Regions from separate parts of the Homo sapiens genome. Here region 1 is linked to region 2. The links come from fine-mapping of genetic effects on gene expression. A gene starts in region 2. The other region holds a variant in brackets. All regions are shown on one strand. Distances are from middle to middle. Region 1 holds the start of ERFE (erythroferrone). Region 2 holds the start of ILKAP (ILK associated serine/threonine phosphatase).

The links. PIP is the estimated chance that this variant, and not a neighbour inherited with it, causes the effect.
Region 1: its variant is fine-mapped to the expression of ILKAP in whole blood (TOPMed, PIP above 0.99).

Annotation. Positions count from the first base shown.
Region 1 is chr2:238,150,956-238,162,717 of GRCh38, forward strand. ERFE (erythroferrone) reads left to right here and starts at 8,015. Exons shown (of 8, transcript NM_001291832.2): 1 at 8,015-8,250; 2 at 10,639-10,761. The coding sequence starts at 8,053. KLHL30 (kelch like family member 30) reads left to right here. Exons shown (of 8, transcript NM_198582.4): 8 at 1-1,992. The coding sequence ends at 110. RefSeq lists an enhancer at 2,327-2,826 and a silencer at 7,993-8,062. The variant T/C (reference allele first, on the strand shown) is at 6,783.
Region 2 is chr2:238,198,176-238,209,937 of GRCh38, forward strand. It overlaps ILKAP (ILK associated serine/threonine phosphatase), which reads right to left and starts at 5,520. Exons shown (of 12, transcript NM_030768.3): 1 at 5,324-5,520. The coding sequence starts at 5,378. RefSeq lists enhancers at 4,507-4,566, 5,529-6,401 and silencers at 4,937-5,026, 5,147-5,716.

The sequences.
Region 1 (11,762 bases), 47 kb before region 2:
GGACCCGCCACGGCGCCCTGCCCCGGCTCTGGCTCTACCACGGGGCCTCCACCGTCTTCCTGGATGTCTCCAAGTGGACCCAGCCCTCCGGCCCCACCCAGGAGCACTAAACCAGGGCCAGGGTCCCCGGGGAGGAGTCCCCACAGCGGCCCCTCATCAGCCTGTGGAACGGCCCCTTTCATTTTCGCTTATTTGTTCACTCGGAGCTACCATTCCTTCCAAGCTGCGCTCAGGCCACCAGGGGTGATCAGACGGCATGGCTTGGAGGACACAGCCTTGGTCTCTGTGGCCACCACACTAAACTCTGAGCTGAGCAGTGACAAGGGCCTGAGTGCCAGACGCTGGCATAACAGGGACAGGAAGCTCTGCTGCCCCTGGGGTTCCCGAGACCTCAGAGAGGGGAGCCGGGGGCCGGGCCAGCATTCCCAGAGCTTGCGAGCCCCACTCCTGCCCCTGGACCCCAGCAGGGGCTTTTGGAGCAGTTGCATGAATGTGGGGTGAACACGGAGCGTCCCAGAAAGCTGAGGCTGCTGGGGAAGGCAGGCCCCGGAGATGGGATCAGCACCAGGTCCTCGTGGGCCTGCTTCTGCCCAGCTCACGGCAGCGTAACTGTGGCCAGCCACCTCCCCTCTCTGGGCTTCAAGCTCCGCGTCCACCACACACGGGGCTGGCTGTGTGGGCTTTGGGTCCCCACTCAGGCTTTGCATGTTGGTGCTGTGTTTCTGCTTCTGTGGACAAAGGAGGCCCCCACCCATCTCTTGCACCCAGAGGGCGGTGCCCACAGAGGCACCAGGAAGGAGGGAGGCAGGGCGTGGGGCGGGGCTGGAGGGTCCCAGGGAGGTGAGCAGTTTTGCTCTCAGAAGGGATTGCCTCCGTCTCTGTGTGTCAGAACAAAGGCTCTTCATTAGAATGGAATTTCCCACCAGGGGACGACTCTTGGGTGCATTGGTGGCAGCCTCCTGAGGGTGAGGGGTAGCATCCGATGGGCCCCTGCCAGCATGCAGCCCGACTCCGGCTGGCTCAGGCTCCGAGTGGCTTCTCCCTCATCCTGAATGAGGCACCCACCTTTGCAGCTAAGGAGACAATGAAGGACTCTCCCTGGGTGCCCAATGGCGTGTCCCTCCTGTCACAGGCTCCGCCCTGGGACATGGGGCTAGAAGTCAGGAGTCGGGCCCGGCCAGGCACAGGCCCTGGTGTTGCCCCAGAGGCCCTGGGCAGCTCCGGTCTCCCGCCGGATCCAGGCTTCCTCTCCAGGACCAGCCCCTGGGTTCCTCCTTAACACCCCCCGCCCCTGGGGACCAGAGGGGCCTCTGACATCCTTGGGTTCTGAGGACGGAAACCCCTGAGCCTCTTGAGCTTCTGTAGGTAGGGATCTGCTTTGCTCCCAGACCTGCCTCTCATAGCTTTTTTTTTTTTTTTTTTTTTTTTTTGAGACGGAGTCTCGCTCTTGTCGTCCAGGCTGGAGTGCAATGCTGAGATCTTGGCTCACTGCAACCTCCACCTCCCGGGTTCAAGAGATTCTCCTGCCTTAGCCTCTCAAGTAGCTGGGATTACAGGCACTCGCCACCACGCCTGACTAATTTTTGTATTTTTAGTAGAAACAGGGTTTCACCATGTTGACCAGGCTGGTCTTGAACTCCTGACCTCAGGTGATCCGCCCGCCTCAGCCTCCCAAAGTGCTGGGATTACAAGGTGTGGGAGAAGTGAGTTGACCCTGGAGGGCCAGACAGAGTGGGGCCTCTGGGTGCTACCAAAGGAACAAGAGCCCAGAGCTGAGGAGACCTTCGGTGGCAGATGGATTGGATGAAGCAAGGGTGAGGGTTTCTGGGGCCCTGGGCTCTGTTTCCATGTGGAAATCTGAAATGTTTTCTAGACAGTGATGGAAGGAGGTCAGCCAAAGGGCTGTTTAAAAACAAAGCCTCCATGTAAACCATTTCTGCAAGAATATTTTAAAATAAATAAAAATAAAACTGAAGACATGAAATGTCAAAATAGGCTGGCTTTGATCACAAAGTAGCCAAAAGGGCGGCGTGCCAGAGCAACGCCTGCTGTCCACCCTTGCACACCCTATGGGAATATGGGCGGTCCTCGGGTGGAAGGAGTGGGCCTCTCCAGGGCCTGGCTCCCAGCTTTGAGGTGCCAAAGTGCACCTCGTCCGATCAGCTGGGCTCCTGATTCAGGGGGCCATCGCAGCCTTCAGGGCACCAGGAGGAAAGGGGCGTCTGCTGGGTATTGAGGTGAGTGGCTAAGGAGAGTTTCACGACGGCCTCTCCCCATGCTGTGGGCAGGGTGAAGGGAGCCCAGTGGCTGGAGAGGCATCCCAGGACAGCAGCAGTGGGAGTGCCACCCCCCCCACCCCGTCTTGGGAGAAGGGAAAGGGCAGACGCAGACTCCAGGGAGCTGCTGAGAGAGGGCCTTGGCGGGGGAACGCAGCCACCACCCCTGTTGTCCAGCTGGGAGGAGGTGGCAGAGTCCATCTGCCCTCTCTCTCTGGCCTGCCCCCTGTCTCCCACTAGCGCCTCCTACAGGCCAAGCCCAACCAGAACCCAGAGGGAAGAGAGGCCATTGACAGGCTGTAGTGGCCACCTGGGGACACAGAACAGGTGGAGAAGGTGGCCAGGGCACCAGGACGGCGGCCAGAAGGTCCGGCACACGTCACCCACTTGAGAGCTTTGCACGAAGGGACATTAATGCACTCACTCACCAAGCGACAGCCATAGGGCAGCCAAGGTATCCCCTTCCATCATCAAAATCCAGGACAGCAAGGACTCATTAGAAGGCTTGAGGCTAATATGGGCTTCTAGAAAGGGGAGCGCGTAGCCTTGGAACATGTGCAAATGCCCACAGGGGTGTGCGGGCGAAACCCACCTCCAGGCCCCATGTGCTCATGTCCTCCAGGTAGGTGCGTGTTGTCTTTCCCATAGAGGATGCTGGGTAAACTGAGGCCCCTCAGCCTTCAGTGAGCACACAGGGCCCTCAGCCAGGCCCAGCACTGCCAACTGTATCTCAGCTCCCCCGGGTCCCCAAGTAAGCTGGGGCCTAGGCATGCTTCCAGCCACTTCCACCGGACTTGAGTTTTCCAACACCTCACAGACAGGCCCCTTTTATTATCTGGCATCTTCTCTATTCAGGCAGGGACAGTGGTTGCTGGGATCAGGCCATTGACACCCTCATGTGACTGTAATTAAATGGACTGGTCACCTGACAGTTTTCCATAGTCAGTATAGACCATGACATAGCTTGGAGATCTGTCCCCTCCGAATCTCATGTTGAGTCTGTTGAGTCTGATCGCTGGTGTTGGAGTTGGGCCTGGTGGGAGGCGTTTAGATCATGGGGGCGGATCCCTCAGGCATGGCATGGTGCAGTAACGCTGGTGCGTTCACGGAGAGCTGATCGTTAAAGAGCCTGACACCTCCCCTGCTCTCCCTTGCTCCCTCACTGTGTGACACACCTGCTCCCCTTCCCCTGCCACCGTGAGTGGAAGCTTCCTGAGGCCTCACCAGAAGCAGATGCTGGCACTATGCTTCCTGTACATCCTGCAGAACTGTGAGCCAAATAAACCTCTTTTCTTTGTAAATTACCCAGCCTCACATTTTCCTTTATAGCAAGAAAACAGAAGGATACAGGCCACTACTCCAGTTGGTTGGGCCATCAGTTGATCCAGCTGAAAGCATGTGTATGGATGGAGAATGTGCCAATGGCTTAAGGAGAGAGGGCACAGCCACGTACACAGGAAAGATGCTGCACCTCCGGGGCCGTGTCATTCACCGTCCCTCCCCAGTGCCCGGCGTGGTATCAGCTGATCGGTCTGAAGTGTGGCTGCTTCTCCCGGACTCTGCAGCACCAGGTACGTGGCAGGGCAGCCAGGTGTGTGGCTGTCACTGAGACTGAGGTAGACTAGGACAGGAATCTCCATGGGGGAAGTATCCTGTTTGGAACAAACCCCAGGAGACATCATGACTCCCTCAGAAGCCAAGACGATTTTGATCACAGTCACATTTAAGAATGTGATTCTTTCCAAAATGGCATTGCATTCAACTGAGAGGAGAGCTAAAGATGATTATTTTAATTAATCTATTAAAAACATGTAGACAATTAGCAGAAAACTCAAGAGACCCTCTGGGCAGGAGTGAGAAAGAATTGTCTCCCGAGAGACCCGAGACTGCCCACACACCCATGCAGGAGGCCACAATGTATTCCGAGTGCTCGGCCTGGTGCCGGCACGTCATGGGAACTGCACAACTGCACAAATGCTCACTGAACTGAACTAAATCTGTAGGTTCTCCAGAGCAACTGACCTCAAGTTGTAGGGGCCAGACCTGGATGTGGTTTCATTTATTGGCTCTGTGACCTTGGGCCAATCCCAAGATCTGAGCCTCAGTTTCCTCATCTGTGCAATGGGGATAATCACACGATTTGCAAATTAGATGACGTCGTGGGCTTGCAAGGCCCAGTAAACAGCGAAGGCTACCCGCCTGGGCCTCTGGAGGCCACACAACAAGCTGACTTCACGGTCCCACTGTTTTCAGGGCAGAGGGAGGTTTTATTCCCATGACTTCATCGGCAAAGGTCCTTCCTCTGGAGGAAGAGAGAAGAGTGGGAACAGCTTGGCTGCATCAGGCTGCTGGGAAGCCAGGCCCGGGCCGTGACATGAGGGCCCAAGAATGAGGATTAGATTTCAGCCAGGCGTGAAGGCGCATGGGGGAGGCCACTTCCTGCTCCAGTGATCCCCGTTCTGTGGCCATTCATTTAGTTCTTCCATCCTGGGATGTCCTGGCTCACCCCGATGCCAGCCCCACTTCTGACCCATGGGCTGCTCCTGCAGGGGGAGGCCCCCATTTCTGCTGCTCCTTGATCTGCGCAATTCTTTGCTAAGCTCCACCTTCCTCTGAGTGAAAGCCACTTTGAAATGTGAACGCAGACACATGCAGGGGCCCCACCTGAAGACCCCCGGCCTCTCTGCTCTCTGTCCCCAACCCAGGCGGAGTCATCCTCTCAGGATAGTGTTACAGGAGGCTGCCCCAGCACCAGAACCGATTGGATTTGGGCCTCTGGCAGGGCCCATGACATCATGAGGATTGTTCATTGTTTGGGAAAATAACTTTTTCACATGGCAACGGCTCCTGTCCTCAATGCTGGCCTGAAAGCTGGGGCCCCCCACTGCGAAGTGGAATGACATCACACTAGTATCTTAAGGGTAATGTTCCCCAAATCAGGGCACCTCATCCCTGCGTATCCTCAGTGTTGCCGACGGTGGCAGAGCCTGAGCATCACCTTCCCAGGGCTCGGGTGGGGCCAAACAGCATCCACCTTGAGCCATAGCTGCAGCCAGGGCCCCAGAGGGAATTCAGACCTGTGGGATGCCCATTCCTCACAGGGAAAAGATGGGGCTATGTTTTCTGCAGTAATGCTCCAACTCATCACGCACCTCTTATTTCACACCAACTAGAATAGGAGGAACCCTAACAAGCCAAACATAAGGCCGTGAAGATGTAACCTGTCCAGTGGGCAGGAGGGCCTCTGCAGCCCCACGCCGGCTCTGCCCATGGGCTGCGTCCTGGGCAAGCCGCCCACCTCTCTGGGCTAATTGGTGGGGAATCAAATGAGGTGCTGGTGTGGATGAGCTTCTCCAGAAGCAAGAAGGTGCCATTCACACAGCTGCAACTCCTGGGGACAGGAGCCCCTCTCTACCAGCAGAGTACAGGAGAACATGGCACGCCAGGGTCCTGTGGTCCACAGATACAGTCCCTCTGAATAAGTGAAACCGAATGAAATGTTAACACATTACACCGAATGTGCATGTCACATTCAGACATGTCATGACAAAGTTCCACACATCAGGCTTCTTAACAGACATTCCAATAGAACCAGACATGAAAACCCACCAGAGAAACCCTTCACTCTCTGAGGGCCTTAAGACATCTCCCTCATATGCGTGATTTTGGGAGCAAATGTCCTTAATTGTGACAAACCTGCAGAATGTTTGCAGGTGAAATAAGTTCAGATATCTTGCTGGGCACATATGACCTAAGCCAGTGTTTCTCATATTTCTCAAATGTGTCTTAAAGACTTGCATGTTTTATAGGAATTCAAATGTTTTCATTGTATTGGTCTTTTTAAAAAAAAAAATCATTTGTGGCTTTTTGTTGAGACGGAGTCTCGCTCTGTCACCCAGGCTGGAGTGCAGTGGTGTGATCTCGGCTCACTGCAACCTGCATCTCCCAGGTTCAAGCAATTCTCCTGCCTCAGCCTCCTGAGTAGCTGGGATGACAGGCGCTCGCCACCACACCCGGCTAATTTTTGTAGTTTTAGTAGAGACGGGATTTCACCATGTTGGTCAGGCTGGTCTCGAACTCCTGACCTCAGGTGATCCACCTGCCTCGGCCTCCCAAAGTGCTGGGATTACAGGCGTGAGCCACCGTGTCTGGCCCATTTGTGGCTTTTAAAGGCAGGACTTCCCTCTTGTGTCCTCACCTGCCATTGAAAGACATCTTCACAGAGTAAGTCCATGGGACTTACCCCTGCCGGGCAGATTCTCATGCTGGGCAGGGTATGTTTTTCTTTAAACGTCCTCCCCACCCAACTCTACACCATTCCCATATCCTATGGGAAAAGGGGTGGAATCACAGGGAATAATTACCTTCTGATCCCATGCTTTTCCTAAAGTATGAAGTATTTCCTGGTTTCCCCACCTGCCAGGCATGAGGCCAGCCAGGTGGAACATCGCATGAGTGGCCAGAAAAGGCAGGCGACAAAGGCCAGCTTGCATCTGAGGACGGAAC[T/C]TGGCCCATCCCCAAGCCTGGGGGGCACCACCTGCGGCTGCTGGTGCCCCTTTCAGTCCCTGCTGCCACATCCTGTGAACCAGGACAGGGTAAGGCCTCCTTTCCCCAGCGGGCTCTTCTCAAAAGAGTTCCCCGGGAACAGCAGCCCTCGGTGTGAGTGTAAGGTACTTTTCCAGCGGAGCCTTCTCCCGTTCTTTAACAAAAAGCACTGTGTACCCACCAGGGGCAGGTGCCTCGGGGGTGGGGCAAGCGAGCCAAGTGTGCGACCCTCCTCGGCTTAGCGTCCAGTGGTGGGGCAGATAGTCAAAAGGGCATGCGATATAACAAAGCCAGGGGTAGGGTGGGGCTGGGGCTGGCTCTTTCCTGGTAGGGCCGCCCAGAGGCCTCTCTGCCACCTTCTCCGAGGCCTGCAGGGTCTGGTCCACCTCTGGGGGCACTGATTCCGGTGGGCGGTGGGCAGCCTGGCTTCCGGTCTGGTCTGCCCCCACACCCCCGCTAGGGCACGATAGGGGTCAGTTCTCCCAGCCCAGGCCCCGCTCAGCCCCACCAGGGCAGGGCGGCTGTCCTGAGTTGTTTCTTGGCTCCCTGCGTCTTCTGGGTCCCGGCAGGTGCGACAGGTGGGGAAGAACAGTGAATCCCTGCGCTCAGAGCACGCCAGCCATGGACGGAGGGCGGCCTGGAAAGGGGAGTTCCCGCCTGGGAAAGGGGCGCTGAGAAGGGGCCCTGAGGGTCTCCCGGCTCAGATTTGCTCCACCTGTGTCATAGAGGCCTGGGCCTTGCGGGGCGCAGCCAGGAGAATGGGGAGGGGGTACCTCGGGGGTCCCTGCAGAGGACGTGGGGGACAGAGCGGGGAGAAAGGATGCCTCGAGCCGTCTGGGAGGAGGCAGCGCCTGGCTCCCCGCAAAGAAAATGGGGTCGCGAGGGCCGAGGGTCCAGGGCTGGGAGAAGGGGCGCCTCGCTCCCCAGGAAGCAGAAGCGCTGGACAGCGCGAAGGAGGGATCCCAGAACCAGGAGTTGCAGGGGGGACGCGCCCAGCAGGGGAACACCCCTCGCTCTCCCTGCCCTGCCCCGCTCCCCGTGCCCCCTCCCCCACTCCCCCTCCCCCGCCCGGACACTCCCCCCATCCCCATGCAGCGCGCACGGGAGCCGGGAGGGGGCGCGGGCGGGCGCGCGGTCTCGGGCGAGGCGGGGGATTCAAGCGCGTTATAAGGCGAGGAGCCCGGGGCGTCCGAGACGCCGCGCTCGGAGCCGCGAGGGAACCGCCGCCCGCATGGCCCCGGCCCGCCGCCCCGCCGGAGCCCGCCTGCTGCTCGTCTACGCGGGCCTGCTGGCCGCCGCCGCCGCGGGCCTGGGGTCCCCGGAGCCTGGGGCGCCCTCGAGGAGCCGCGCCCGCAGGGAGCCGCCGCCCGGGAACGAGCTGCCCCGGGGCCCCGGGGAGAGCCGCGCGGGGCCGGCCGCTCGTCCGCCGGTAAGACGCCCGGGCCCGCTCCAGACCCAGCCCGCGCCCGCACGCCCCGGCTCGGGGCGGCGGGAGGCGGACGTGGAGGCCGAGCCCGCCCTCACCCCCGAGGGCTGCTGCATCGCCTGGCACCGGGGCTCCGGGGCTCCGCAGAGACTCAGGGCCGTGTAGACGCCGCCCTCAGCCCGGCGGGGCAGCCTTGACTTTGGCTTTGGGGTAGTTTGACTTAAAGCAAGGTTCTACTAGGTCGGCGAAACCCCCCTTTTCTTTTGGGACAGAAGGAAGTTGGGAAATAGATAAAGTGTAAATAACTTGATTTGAGGAAATTGGGAAGAACGCATTTGTAAAAAGTGTAAGCGAATTACTGCCACCGCCCCCAATCTATTTGGTGCAATTATCTGGAAAACAAAAAGTGTTTTCCTGCGGATCTGGGGTCGGGGGGCTGTGCAGGGTGGGGAATGACATGTGGCTTTGAGTCAAGTGATCAGGTGGCTTTTGGCCGTGAGTGGGTGATCTTGAGCTCTGCCCTGCCCCCTCCTCTCCAGGGTTTTGGAGCCTGGACTGCTGAGCAGAGGGTGGTCCGGTTGGGGAGGTGTGGCCCAGGCCTGAGGAGGGGAGAACTTCAGAGGAGCCCTCAGTGTGGCCGGGCCTTGGGTCAGGGAGACAGGGCTGCCCCAGGGAAGCCGGGGTGGGCGGCCGGTGCTGTTTATTCTGAAGATGCTCAGGGGCAGTAGAGGGGAGAGCCAGGAACGCATCTACTAGAGAGGACAGGGGTGCAGCCAGGCCTGGGGTCCCCCAGAGTTCTCTATCCCGGCCCCATCACACCCAGCCACTTCCCAGGGACTGAAGGCACCCCCTCCCCGTGCAGTTGGCCAAACCACCCAGGTGGGCACAGCAGCCAAATGTCAGGGCACTGTCAGCAGGAGGCAGACGGGGCTCAGGGGCTTCCAGGTGGAGTTTTGGCCTTGGACCCTGTTTGTGGGGGACACAGTGACACCAGAGGTCCTCCCAGGCTCCAAGGCTTGTTTCTGAGAGACCCCTTGTGGCTGGAACCAGGGCAGCTGCCCAATACCCACCCCCATTGCTGGGGCCGTCTCCTGGGACGCCACCTTCTGCCTGTTACAGCTCTACCTGCAAACCACACTGGGGTCAGGGTCCGGCCACAGGCCACAGGTGCAGCTGGGAGGGTCAGCTGGGCACACCCCTCCTGGCCGGTGTGCGGCATCCTCGCCCCATGTTTCCACGGAGGGCACACAGGAAGTGGAAGAGGGTCCTGGGAGGGGGTAGAGGGGAGATCAGCCAGCAGGTGGTGCAGTTGACCCTCTAAGGCACAAGGAAGCACTGAGCAGCGCTGAGGGCCCTGGGCCCCTGAACCCTTTCTCCGCCCAACCACAGGCTCCTCGGCACCGCAGCCCCCATCTTCCCACCACAACACCCTGGCCTGCGCATTGGTCAGCCAGCTCCCAAAAGAAGGCCCTGCATCCCCCCAGATCAGCCAGGAACCAAAGGCAGTGACTTGGCAGCCGGCTTTGTCTCTGATAAAAGGGCCCAGTCAGCTCTAAAATCCCAGGGTCCTTCCGTCAGCCCCCAGCGTCAGCACCCATGACCTCATCTAAGCCCTCTTGGGCCGGTTTCCTTCCCAGCTGGCAGCCTTGCCTGGAGCCCAGATAGCCCAAGGCCTCTCCCAGGAAGGTCCCTCCCAAAACTGTGCTCAGTGTCAGCATCAGTCAGGATGCAGCGCGGACAGGAATGGGAACTTCCGGAAGCATCACTGTCCATGTGTCAGTGTCTCAGAAGTGCTGAGGAAATGAAAGTCTCACACAGAGGCCTCGCGTCATGACAGCTCGCCTGGTCCTCTCCCCCACTGGACTGTAACCCGAGGCAGCTGTGAGAGCTGAATTTGCCTCCTTAGAACTTCTGACACTGGGGGAGGATGGACAGAGGAGGGTTGGCTAGTAGTTGGGCTCCCTGATAATCACAGTTGCTTCTTCCTGAGCACCTATGGGTGCTCCAGTGGTCGGATCCTCCTGGTGACTGGAGGACGGTGTGATCACTGCAGCTCCTCTGGAGGAAGGAGGCCCAGCAGTACGGGGATTCACCCCGATATCCAAGCCCTGCACCCCATTTTCCCTCCAGGCATCTTGGGTCTGCCTCTCCCATGAGTGCCAAGTCCAGGCCGAGGTGTGGCCCGTTCCCTAGGAGTCATCCTCCACGGGCCGGGGGAGAAGCTGTGAGGGGTTGGGGCCCCTTTGGGAGCTGCCTTTGAGGGCACCACAGGTGACAAGGACCAGGGTCCCAGAGTACAGAAGGCCACACAGTCACCTCCTGCAAAGTGTCCCACCTGCTTGGTAGGAGCCCAGTGAGGCCAACCGCCCTGCTGGGCTGGCTGTGTTCCAGGAGCCCACCGCTGAGCGTGCACACAGCGTCGACCCCCGGGACGCCTGGATGCTCTTCGTCAGGCAGAGTGACAAGGGTGTCAATGGCAAGAAGAGGAGCAGGGGCAAGGCCAAGAAGCTGAAGGTGAGGCCGGCATCCCGTCAGTGCCAGGCCGTGGGGGGTTCCGCCTCCTCGCTCCTCATCCACTCCCACTCCTACATCCTGAACATTTCCAATAGCACACCCCTCACGCCTCGGCCTGGGGACAGAGAACAGAGAGAACCCAGGCAGCCCCAGGGGGAGCCCCGAGTTAGGGGCCTGGTCCCAACCATTTCCCCACACCCCTAAAATGCCAGGCTCTCCCTCTTTTCTCCTCCCTCTGCATCCAGGCCAGGGAGGCTGGGCTAGCCCAGGCTGTGGTGAGAACCTTGTCCACACTGGAGGGGCCTGCAGGAGTGCCTGGCTCCCAGGGACTAGGGGCACAGGGTCCCTCTCACCCTCACTCAGCCTTAGGTCTTGGCCTGGGCAGAAACTTGGTGCTTGGTCCTGGTGCTGCCTCCTGCTTGGAGCCCCCAAAATGGAAAATACGGGGTGTGGGCTTCTCTGTCCCCTGGGGGCCAGTATCACCTGCCTGGGATCTGAACACACGATGGAAGGCCAGCTCGGAGTGCATGAGGCAGGTGCACAGGCCGCGCTGTCCTCGTGGCCTGGCCTTCTACCTCTGCCCAGCCTCCTGGCCCTGCCCTAAGCTTCTCCCCACAGGGGGCTCACTGGCTTCTGGTTCGGGTCCCAACCCAGCCTAGTGGGGACCTGCTGATGGTGGACTCGGGCCCAGTGCAGACCCTGAGATGCAAGTCCCCAAAAGCAGCCTAGAGTCTTCTTCCCTCCACGAGGCCTGGCCGCAGGAGCGGGCTTCAGCCCTCTGCCTCCCCACTCAGAGCAGAGTCCTTCCCTGCCAAAGCCCCGCCCCGAGGGCCCCCACCTCCAGCACAGTCCTTGTACTCACTCCAGGAGAAGCTTTCACTGAGGTAGATCCTTGGCTGGAGGTTGGAGCCCACTGGGGAGCTCTGTTGCCTGCCTCTTAGTGGCAAGAGCTTGCACAGGGGATGCTGTGGCTCCCAGCCTGCTCCTCACATGTCCTCACT
Region 2 (11,762 bases):
TTAAAAAAAAATCTATAGGTCATAGATACATAAGGAAACTACTGATTAGTCAAAACCTTAGATTTTTTTTTTTTTAAATTGAGACAAGAGTCTCGCTCTGTGAGCCAGGTTGGAGTGCAGTGGTGTGATCACAGCTCACTGCAGCCCCAACCTTCTGGGCTCAAGCAATCCTCCCTCGTCAGATTCCCGAGTAGCTGAAACTACAGGCATACACCACCATGCCCAGCTAATTTTTTAACTTTTTGTAGAGACGGGGTCTCACTATGTTGCCCAGGTTGGTCACGAACTACTGTACTCAAGCAATCTTCCTGCCTCAGCATCCCAAAGTGCTGGGATTACAGATGTGACCCACTGCTCCAGGCCCTTACATTCTATTTTGAATAAACTGAAATTCAAAGCATTGGGGGCTGCAATCATTGGACAAAGTGTGACCCTGACCTAAAAATCTGGAAGAGGCCCCTCCCCTAATCTTAAAAATATTAGAACCCTAATAAGAATACAAGACTAAAAATGTCCATTAATCATAGTTAATCTCATCTAGAACTTTTTTTTTTCCTCAGTTATCTACATTCTGGAGCTAAGTCTACTGGAAGTTATATACTATGCTGAGAAAAATACCCTTGGGTTGATCATATTCAGGTTAAAGGTTGCTGTATCCAATAAAGTTAAAAAAGGATGTTAAAATATTTTGGCTAAATTGTTTTTTATACCTCAATTTTTTCAACTATAAAATAAATCCAGGTGTTTTCCAAACACCACAGAGGTATTATCAGAAAAAAGGGGGGACAGGTTCCGCCACACCCCCCAACCACAGTATGAGTTTAGTGTATCCTTTCCACTTTCCTTAATGCTCATGCACATGGACTCATGCATTTTAATTTGTAGAAGACAGAGTCATACTCTACACAATACTCCACATATAGTGTTCACATAACCCATCAAGGCATGCTCCAGGCCAACACACCCAAGTCTAATTCATCCTCTCCAACAGCCACACATGGGAAGCATCTCCACTCATTCGACCAGATCCTTACTGATGGGTTCAAGCTTTTCCCAGTTCTTCATATGATAAGTGACGCCACAATCAACAATCTGATACATGTATTCCTGCTTAATCTGCTAGACTGCTCGTCAAAGGATATTAGTTTAAATCTGATAGAAGCCAAAATCTGTTCCCCAAAAAGTTGTAATTTTCACTCCCAAAACACTTTATGAGAAAGTCTACTTCGCTACACATTCACCAATGTTACCAACTGTTGCTAATCTGATGGGTGAAAAGGTAAATAGTTCCTCAGCAACTTTCTGTTGATGGGCCATTTGTATTCCTTACCTCTGAACTGGGAGGATACATCCTTTGACCATTTTTCTAGTGGGTTTTATTTTTTCCCATCAATTCTGTGAGCCTTTCTTATACCCTTAGTAATGTATATTGCAATTATTTTCTCGGTTTGTCTTTTGCCTTTATAGTATCATTTGTCCTGCAGAAATTTTAAATTTTTACATAGTCAAATTCACTTTTTTATGACTTTTTTCTTGTTCAACCCTGTAGTTTTACAATCTGTTTTCCTCTAATACCTTAACCTTTATGTTCAAATATTCTTCTTTTTTTTTTTTAATCGTAGAGACAGGGGTCTCACGAAGTTGTGCCAGGCTCTTCTCAAATTCCTGGCCTCAAGCCATCCTCCTGCCTTGTTCCCCCAAAGCGCTGGGATTACAAGTATGCGCCATCGAGCCCAGCCTCCAATTTTTTTAAAGTATTTTTAAGATGGTGTGGCCATCAAATATTTTATTTCCTCCTCAACAACTGACCATCAATTTTTAAAGTACTAGTGTAGCAACCAAATAAGTAAAAGAACCACCCTATAAAAGTGAAATCAAGTTACTGGCGAAGCAATTTTAAACCATGACACCTTCAACTGACATACATGGATTGTCAATATAAGCTGCCAATCTTAAAGACATCAGGTCGGCACTTTTATGGGTATGACATAGGAAAGTTCCATTTCTGCCTGATATGAACAAACACTTTTTTTTAGGTAAAATATATACATCTCTCCTTTAAAAAACTTGATTCATTCAGCAATTAAAACTTTTAAGGGCTTGGATGAAAACTACTAATTTAGCAAAATACCTGAAATATTTAGTGCATTCTATGTATTTTTCTAGATTATAAACATTTAAGAGGTTTAGGGGTGGGAACATTAGATGCAACGTTTAAAACAAAAATAAAAAGATCTAAACAAAATATTAATACATTTGATGTGATATAAGCAGTGTAGTATTCTCCCTTTGGACACTCAGTGCTTTCCCATAATTCATTTAAGACTGCGTTTTTCCACTTTTAAACAACTGTTAATGGCTCAGCCAGGCACAGTGGCTTACCACTGTAATCCCAGCACTCTGGGAGGGCCAAGGTGGGCAGAACACTTGAGCCCCAGGAGTTCGAGAGCAGCCTGGGCAACATGGCAAAGCCTTGTCTCTACAAAACATACAAAAATTAGCTGGCTGTGGTGGTGCGCACCTGTAGTCCCAGCTACCAAGGAGGCTGAGGTGGAAGAATCACCTGTGCCCACGGAGGTCGAGACTGCAGTGAGCTGTGTTTATGTCACTGCACTCCAGCCTGGGCGACACAATGAGGCTGTCTCAAAAATAATAACCCTGGCTAACATCTATAAAACACTATACATTCTACCCCACACTATGTGCAGCACCATACATACTGTACTAATTTGTACAGTAACAGTGGCAAGTGTCACCCCTTTTTACACATGTAGGAATAGCCACAGAAGGCACAGTTAGTAAGCGAAGAGCTGGATTCTAAACCAAGTAGTCTGGTTACACTTTCTGAACAACTTTTCTTGCGCTCTGGGAAAATAACGAGGTCTTTTATTGTTCACTGCATTAGAGATTTGTGGTACCCACATATCATGTGTGAGGGTCATGATGCACAGTTTAGACTCATTATTCCATTCACTTTAGCAATCAATATGATTTATTCAAAGTATGTTTTTTTTTTTTAAATCACAGTATTTTCACAAGTATGTGAAACCAGATTCTGTTCTTGTACAAACGATTTTAACCTGTCAAATCTCATCTTGTTGGTTGTAGCTAACAGCCTGCAATGATAACTATGGATCCCAATTGTCACTCATTTTAGTACTTATCCCTCTCAGCTTCCAATCATCTACAAATTCTGAGATCTTCTTCGTTTTAAAGCTATTTTTAAAAATACACTCAGCCAAGCAGGACCTGTTGACAATGTCAGTGCCCTCCTGGCAGATGGGGAGCAGCTGACCAATCCAATCTCAGGGTGGTCAGCAGTTTAAACACCATGCACCCCCTCTGCCACCCTTTCAGCTCAGTCAAGGTTGGAAACTGAGTTTGGAAAAAACGGCAACAGGATGTACCTTTCCCACTGTATCTGGCAAAAGGCTGCTAAGGTGCCAACCTATGAGATTCTGAGTTGCCAGGTTTTTTGTCAGTCAAGGGAGCCTGCTCCTGAGCAGAACCTAATTAATTGCAGGTAAAAAGCAATGGAGATTTTAAGACTCATAGGTTTACACGCACACTGGTGAATCCAAATGCTGTCCCAAATATATTCAGATAGAAATTATACTCCATTGACAAGAGAAAAAAGACTGCTACACAAATCCAATTTTTACCCACAGCTAAAACCGTGGTTATTTTGAAAATGAATGGCTGAGTCAAGTTCAAAGACTCCAGGACCAGTTACTGAGATGCTCTGTACCATCAGAACGGTCAGTGGGGGCAGGGCACGGTGGCTCACACCTGTAATCCCAGCAATTTGGGAGGCCGAGGCGGGCGGATCACCTGAGGTCAGGAGTTCAAGACCACCCTACCCAACATGGTGAAACCCCGTCTCTACTAAAAATATAAAAATTAGCCGGGTGTGGTGGTCGGCGCCTGTAATCTCAGCTAGTAGGGAGGCCTAGGCAGGAGAATTGTTTGAACCCGGAGGTTGCAGTGAGCTCAGATCTCACCATTGCACTCCAGCCTGGGCGACAAGAGTGAGACTCCGTCTCAAAAAGTAAAATAAAATAAAATGTTTTCTCGCCCAGAATTACTGCAAATCACAAGCCTGAACATCCTTGGAAGCTCAATTCAAACACTGCCTCCTTCCCCAGTCTCTCGGTGCCCGACAATCCCTCCTCAAGAGTCCTCAGCATTTCCCACAGTCATTAACTTTTGCCAGTTTTAATTACCGTAATTAGTACCCTTCAGAAAGCAGCTCTTAGAAAGCGAAGGCTGGGCCTTACTCACCTCCGTCTACCCTACAACAGCAGCTCCCAAACCACTGGTCTCCAGCCCCCGCTGGGTTGGCCTGGGGATTTAGTAACAGATTCGGAAACCCCACTCTCAGGGATTCGGATTTACTGGGGCTGAGGTGGGCCTGGAAATCTGAACGTCTTAAGTTTTCCAGGTTTTCTGCCCCCAAGTTAAATTTTGTAATAAGGCCCTAAACTACAACATCAAGCTGGAAGTCTTGCATATGAAATATTCACGCGTTTTGACAGATGAAACCCGGAGACTGTAACCCACAGGACGCAGGGATTAACACAGGCCCTGTTTCAAGCTGCTAGGATGCTGAGCTCAAACCACAGCCCACAGGGACTCCCACTGGCAGGGGCCAGCGCTTAGGAGATGAGCGGACCCCTTAACTTCAAGGAGAGGGGGAACTTCCCGTGGACCAGAAAAAAAAAAAAAAAACTACTGTTAATTATCACAAAATCACAGGATGACAGAGGAGGCATCCTGTCTTCCAGGCTTCAAAAACACGAAGGATTAAGATGGTGATTAATTCAATCTCCAGTGCAAATAAAAACGCCAAGCCCCTGAACTTGCACCGGCCCGGAACGCGGCCGTTCCACAGCCCGCGGGTGAAGTGCGGCCCGGAAGCCGCGGGCGGGCGACGCGCAAGGCAGCCCAGGCCGCGGGTGGAATCGGGGCGCGGGGGCCCGCGGTGCCGCCGGGCGTTCAGAGCCGGTCCCTCGGGTCGGCCCACGCGGTCGCGCCGGCGCCTTTCACCGCCACGCAGAGGGGCCGTGGCCACGACGGCTCGGCCCTTTCCTTCCTGCGTAGCGAAAATGGCGGAGCGGCCTCTCCGAGCTCCGCGAGCGACCGGGCCTCCGACAGGGCCGCCAGTGGGCCGGACGGGGCCTGGCCAGGCAGGAGCAGGCCCCGTGCAGCCCGCGCCGCCCGCCGCCTCCCAGCGCGGGCGCCGCCTCAGCCGCCCCGGGCCTCAGGCCGCCCCCATCCCGCCTGCTCTCCCTTCCCTGGCCGGCCCGGCGGCAACGCCGCTTACCGGCAGCCGGGCGCGGCGAGCGCTCGGGCTCCGGCAGGTCCCCGAAGAGGTCCATGGCGGAGGCTGGGTGGAGGCGGCAGCAGCGACAGACACTCAGCCCGCGAGCAGCGGCCGGGCTCCACACCCCGGGCGGGCGGCAGCAGCGGGCGGGCGACGGGCAGGGGCGGCCGGCGCCGTCAGTCACCTGCAGGGAGAGTCCCGGACGCCACCAATCGGCGCGCGGCGTGGCCCGGCCGCCCCAGAGGGCTGCGCGCGGGCTGGGCGGGGCGGCTGGGGGCGGGGCGGTGCGCATGCGCGTGGGCCCCTCCCGCGCCCCGACTGCGAGCCGGGCGGACGGCGCCGTCTGGGCCCCGCGGTGTTTCCCGCCTTGGCGAACCCCGGGCCCCTCCTGCTTTTCCTTGGCTGGGGGTGTCCGATTTCTGTCAAGTTTCGTTGAGTTCCTGTCCAAGAAGCCCTGTCCAGAGAGAAACGTCTGAGCTCAAGGGCAGCCCCTGATGCCTGGGAAGGCTTTCTGGAGCTCTTGCCATCTCTTCGGCTCGTCCTTTCACCACGGCGTGCCTGGTTTCTGGCCTGTTTTAGAGACTGAGAAACCGAGGCTTGGATGGAGCGGCCCTGGGCGTCAGGACGGAAACCTCAAAAGATGCCGGAGGGAAAGGAGGCATTCCCTGACTTGTCTGCACCCACTGGTGTCTGTGGGGAGCGGAGAAGAGGGGCTCCTCCTTAATGGTGTCCCCCTCCATGCCTGTAAAGAGAAAGGCGGCCACTGACATCGGGGAGCTGGCCTGGTTCTGCAGCCAGGACTTGGGGTTGGTCTGGCACAAACAGCTAGGCCTGGGTGTTCTCTTTGAATGTGAACAATTTCATAAAACACCAACATCAGGCCGTGATACAGATCAAGAGAAAAAAACAGACCACTGTGTAATCAAGTGTGAACACAGACAAAACAGGAACACTGTCCAAGCCACAAAAGTGACCACATTCCCCTCGTCTTGGCCAATAAGAGTGATTGCTGCTTCTTTACCATTACATGTTTAGCCTTTGTCTCGTCCTCCTGCCGTCTAGATAAGCTTCATCAAGATATCCAATCATGGAATCCTCCTCTTCCTGACATCCAATCCGGAGCAAAGGCCCGTTTCCATAAATGTTTCCCCAAATCAACTAACACAAACCCAAATCTTACACCTCCGTTCCAACATCGTTTACCCAAGTTCCCCAGGTTATGTGGTCTCCCTCCATGCAAAGAGTTTTCAGCCCAGTTCATTCTGGGGCAGATGTATTTCTGACGCTCTCTGGCTGTAGGACATGGAGGGAGCCCAACAAGGCTTCATGCCTCTCATCTGCGTGGCTTCTCACTAGCAACCGTTTGAGATATTCATGCTGCCTCCTCCATTACAGCAGAAACACTCAAGTAACAATGCTTGTAACCGTTAAAGAAAGAGGAAATAAATACAAAAAGCGGCTCAACATTAAAAGGTTTATTTCAGAGAATAAACCTGAGAGGGGATTCTGGCCAATTTCGATCAGGAGCGCTCTCTCTTACAGACTAAGCATTCTCTCTTACAGACTAAGGATATTTAAGGGTTTTGGAAGTGGGGGAACGTTTATTGCAGGGTTGGAATGTCTCTGGTCGGAGGGGAGGCTATTGGAGGAGAGGTTATTTCAGGGTTAGCATGTTTCTGGTTGAAGAGAGGTTTATCTTAGGGTTGGAATATTTCTGGTTATGCTGACATTAGCCGTTAGGCTGATGTTTTGGGGTAGGATTTAGGTGGTTTTTTAATCAAGGGGAACTTAGAAAGGTGGTGTTTGTCCAAGATGGCAATGCTCCTGCTCTATCAATCCAGTCTCTATAGTTATGAAAAGGACAAGGGGCAGCGCATTTTTTCTGGCTACTTCCTGCTGGGGGAGTGAGCAGAGAGTTCTTTGGTTTCAGATTGATTGTAGGAGTAACGCTGTCTGTAGATGTTTTTGGGTAATTGTCTGTGAGATGGCCATGATCCTGCTGGTTAAAAATCTTTGAAAAAGGTGGCCAGGCGCGGTGGCTCACGCGTGTAATCCCAGCACTTTGGGAGGCCAAGGCGGGTGGGTCACGAGGTCAGGAGATCGAGACCATCCTGGCTAACATGGTGAAACCCCGTCTCTACTAAAAATACAAAAAAAAAAAAAAAATAGCCAGGCATGGTGGCGGGTGCCTGTAGTCCCAGCTACTTGGGAGGCTGAGGCAGGAGAATGGTGTGAACCCAGGAGGCGGAGCTTGCAGTGAGCCGAGATCTCGCCACTGCACTCCAGCCTGGGCGACTGAGCAAGACTCCGTCTCAAAAAAATAAAAAAAACTTAGAAAAAGGTTAATTAAGCAGGGTAAGAACATTATTCCTAGGCATATTTTTAGGAGAGAGCCCAGGAATGGGATGACCCATATTAGGACTTTGTTTTTAAACCAGTAATTTATTTGGTTGTCTTGTTATTCTCTTAGCTTTTTAGCCCTTTCTTTAAGTTTTTTAGCAGCGTCTCTTACTAGGCCCAACTGATTGAGATAGAAGCAACATTTTTTACCGAATGAGAGGCAGAGGTCCCCTCTTTCAGTTGTTATAACATCTAATTCCTGTCTATTTTGGAGGACTACTCCAGCCAAGGAGTCTACTCCAGCCAAGGAGTCTAGTTGGCCTTGGACTCTTATAAGGCTTTGGGCCATATGCTCTAATGAACTCTGCAGTTCTGTTGAAAGAGATTTCAAGTATGTTAAGCAGGTGGCGAATCAGCCTGCTCCCAACCCAAGCCCGGAGGTTATACCTAAGGCAGCCATTAAAGGAATGACGTGGATGGCTCTCCTCTTCCTAACATATTGGATGGATGGAACGGGTAAAGATTGATTAGGAGGAACTAGTCCAATGGAGGGAGAAAGATAAACTAGGGTACAGGTTCTGGTCTGGTTGATGGGGAGACAAAGAAATATGTGTTGAGACCACACAAAAAGAACAAGCCTTTATTGTAAATACAAGCAGAGATATGGACAGAAAATAAGTGAATTAAAGATGAGGTGTTTGTTCTTTCCTGTGGTTCATTACTCCAGGTGGACAAGGAGGAGGCCTGGGAGACACCTACTATACTAGAGGTATAGGAAGAGTTATTTTTTACAGATTTAATGCGGTCGGATGCTGCACTATTGATATTGAGCCAAGGAAAATTGTGGGCACTAGGAGCAGCACAGGTTAGGCTGGAGGCATTGGCTGAGGGAAAGGCTGTCAAACGAGCCAGCTGCAGAAATGCTCCGTTCGCTTCAGGTGATACTTGGTAGTTAGCCTGGTTAGTTTGATGGTCAGAGGGGTGTTTAACAATGATAGTGTGGTTGCATAGGTTAGATGTTAAGGACCCTACAGGGAAATTTCCCTCCGAGGCTGAAAAGCAAAGTGAGGCTCATTATAAGAGGAGGAGTGTGTTTAGTTATGGGCCCTTCAATGGGAGGGCCGTGGGGCTTAAGGCGCTGTAGGGAGTTATCCTAGGTTTGAAATAATTTGTTGGCCTGATCGGCCCTGGAAGTGGGATAATCACCGACTAGAGTGTCAGCTCTTTCAAAAAAGGAAGCTCCTTTTTGGAGTTTATAAATTAGGGTTGTGTTTCCTGTTAAAAGGTCATGAAGGAATGTAGGAAGGGCTGTGTAAGCTAAGGAAGACAGCGATAAACACACCCAGCATTCCAGAGCAAAGGAAGAGTTAGCTTGCCGCAAGAGAGATTGTGTAAGGTTTATAGAGCGTTCTAGTTTGAGAGCAGTGAGGAGTGGTTGTATTGATGAGGTTGATGTGATTAGGGAATTTATATTGAAAGAAACAAGCAAAAAGCGAAAAAAGTTATTTGGGTAGGAGTAAAGTCCTGGAAAGTTCCTTGAAGCCATAGGTCCCATAGAGCAGTAACGAGCTGATCAGGATGTATAATGGGAGCTTCCTAAGGGCACCACTGAAGGTCTGTAACAAGGTTAGTTAGGAAGTGATGAAAGTTTGGGAGAGAAAGAGACATAAGCGGCTTATGTGGATTTCTCCTCCTTTTCCTCAGGGATTTGGGTGAGGCGAAGAGAAGTGGGTCCTGGGAGACACGAGAGAAGGCCGAAGGGGTTTCAGACTTGGTTGTTTGGGTATGTGGTGAAGGGAAGTCTGTTTTCTTGAGAGAAGTACAATGAAACCAGCTGGGGAGTCCCTGGAGTTTCGGTGCTGTGGGTGTGGTAAGGATGATCTGGTAAGGTCCCTTCCACTTAGGTGTGAAGCAGGAATTGAGGGTAGGACTGGGGTATTTTACCAGAACCCAGTCTCCTGGCTGTAGGGAGGGATTAAAGGAGTCGGTGATGGGTTGTGGCAGGTATTTGTCAGCATATTCCTAAATGAAATGGCAGATGGTATGTACAAGAGGGGAAATGAGAGGGATTGGTGGAGGTGGGGCTTGACCCTGAGGTGGAGCAGAGGGGCAAATGGTCTCCCATACATGAGTTCAAAGGTGCTGAGCGTTAGAAGTTTACATTGGAGCACCCGAATTTTTAGAAGGGCTAAAGGCAAAAGTGTAACCCAGTCTTTATGTGTTTGGTGTGAGTACCTGGTGAGGGTGTTTTTGTAGAATGCCATTCATTTCTTCAACCTTTCCTGAAGATTGAGGTCGAGAGGGGAGGTGCAACTTCCAGGTGATTTGTAGGGCTTGTGCAAGTGTTTGAATAATTTGAGAAATGAATTCAGGGCCATTATCAGATTGAAAAGAAAGAGGCACCCCGAACCTGGGGATGATTTCTGTTATTAATTTGGAGAGTAGGAGCTCGTTTGTTGGTTGTGGGAAAGGCCTCGACCCGTACCAAAAAGGTATCAACCAGAACTAAAAGAAATCAAACCCTTTTTACTGGGGGCATGTGGGTAAAACCAATTTGCCAGTCCTGTTCTGGAAGGTGTCCCTTGGATTGATGGGTTAGAAAAGAAGAGGGTCTAGTGTTGAAGTGGGGTGAAGCTTTTTTGCAAACAGAGCATTGATGGGAAATGGCTTTTAACTGTTCCTTTATGTCTGGGGTTATGTATATATGGGAACTTAAGAAATGCTGTAGAGGGGAATGGCTAGTGTGGAAGAGGTTGTGAATGTCCCATAGAAGAAATTGTTTTTTCAGGGTCAAGTAGGACTAATTTGTTTTGTATGAACCAGTATGGGGGTTTAAATTGTCTGCCCCTACTGTGATTGGTTGTTGTGTTTGGTGTTCTGGATAAAAGGAGGGCATATGTTGTGTGAGGGGAAATAAGTATTGGGGAATTGGGTCGTTGGCTGAGGCGTGTTTGGCCCAATAGTCAGCCTCATGGTTCCCTAAAGGAATGTGGCTTTTGTCTGATTGATGTCCTTTGCAATGGATAACCACAACCTTTTCTGGAAGTATAGCTGCCTTTAATAGATGATGGATGAGTTTTCCATTAATGATAGGGGTTCCCTTAGCTATGAGATAGCCCTGCTCACTCAAAATTTGGGCATTGGAATGGATAACGTTACAGGCATATTTAGAATCAGTGTATATATTCACTTGTGTGTTTTCTGCTAGAGTTAGTGCTCTTATTAGGGCAACTAATTCTGCTTGTTGGGAGGATGTGCCCAAAGGCAAGGGGGCAGCCTCTATGGCTTTCTAGGTGGGAGAGAGTGGGTATCATCATGATATCCTTTCAATGATGGCATATCCTGCTTAGAGGGGAGAGTGTTTTGATGTGCTCCCATCTATAAACCAATCTGGGTCTCCTTTTATGTGAGTGCAAGTAAGGCGGTGATACATAGAGAACTTCCAGTTAGATCAGAGCATGAGTGTTGGTCGGGGTCTAAAATTGGTGTTGAAGGTAAAGAGTGGCGGGGTTAGTCAGGGAGCATCTATGAAGAGATATAGAGGGTTGAAGGAGAGTTGAAAGTAGGGCTTGCCTGCGAGAGGATGAGCTGGAGGTGAGCACCTTGTGGCTGAGCATATCTTGTAGACTGTGAGAAGAAAATACCTGAAGAGGTTCATAAAACATGAGATTTTGTGCCTCAGGAATAATTATTGCTGCTGTTGTGACCAAAATGTTTAAGCAAGGGGGCCAGGTTTTATAAATGGGGTCTAGTTGTTTTGAAAATATACCACTGGTTGGAGGGAGTTTGCCATGAGTTGGGCTAATAGACCAAGGGCCTGATTATGAGAACTGTGTAAATACAGATTAAAAGGTCTTAGGGGGTTTGGAAGGCCTAAAGTGGGGGCCTGTAATAACACACGTTTTAGGTGAGAGAAAGCATGATAAAGATCTGGGGTGGGAGTGAGGAGTTGGTCAAGATTTTCTTTTGTGTGTTCATAAAGGGATATAGCAACAATGGCAAAATTTGCTATCCATATTTGGAAATATCCCACTAATCCGAAGAAGGAAAGTAAGTCCCTTTTTGTTTTAGGAAATGGGATTTGTTGAACACCTTGCTT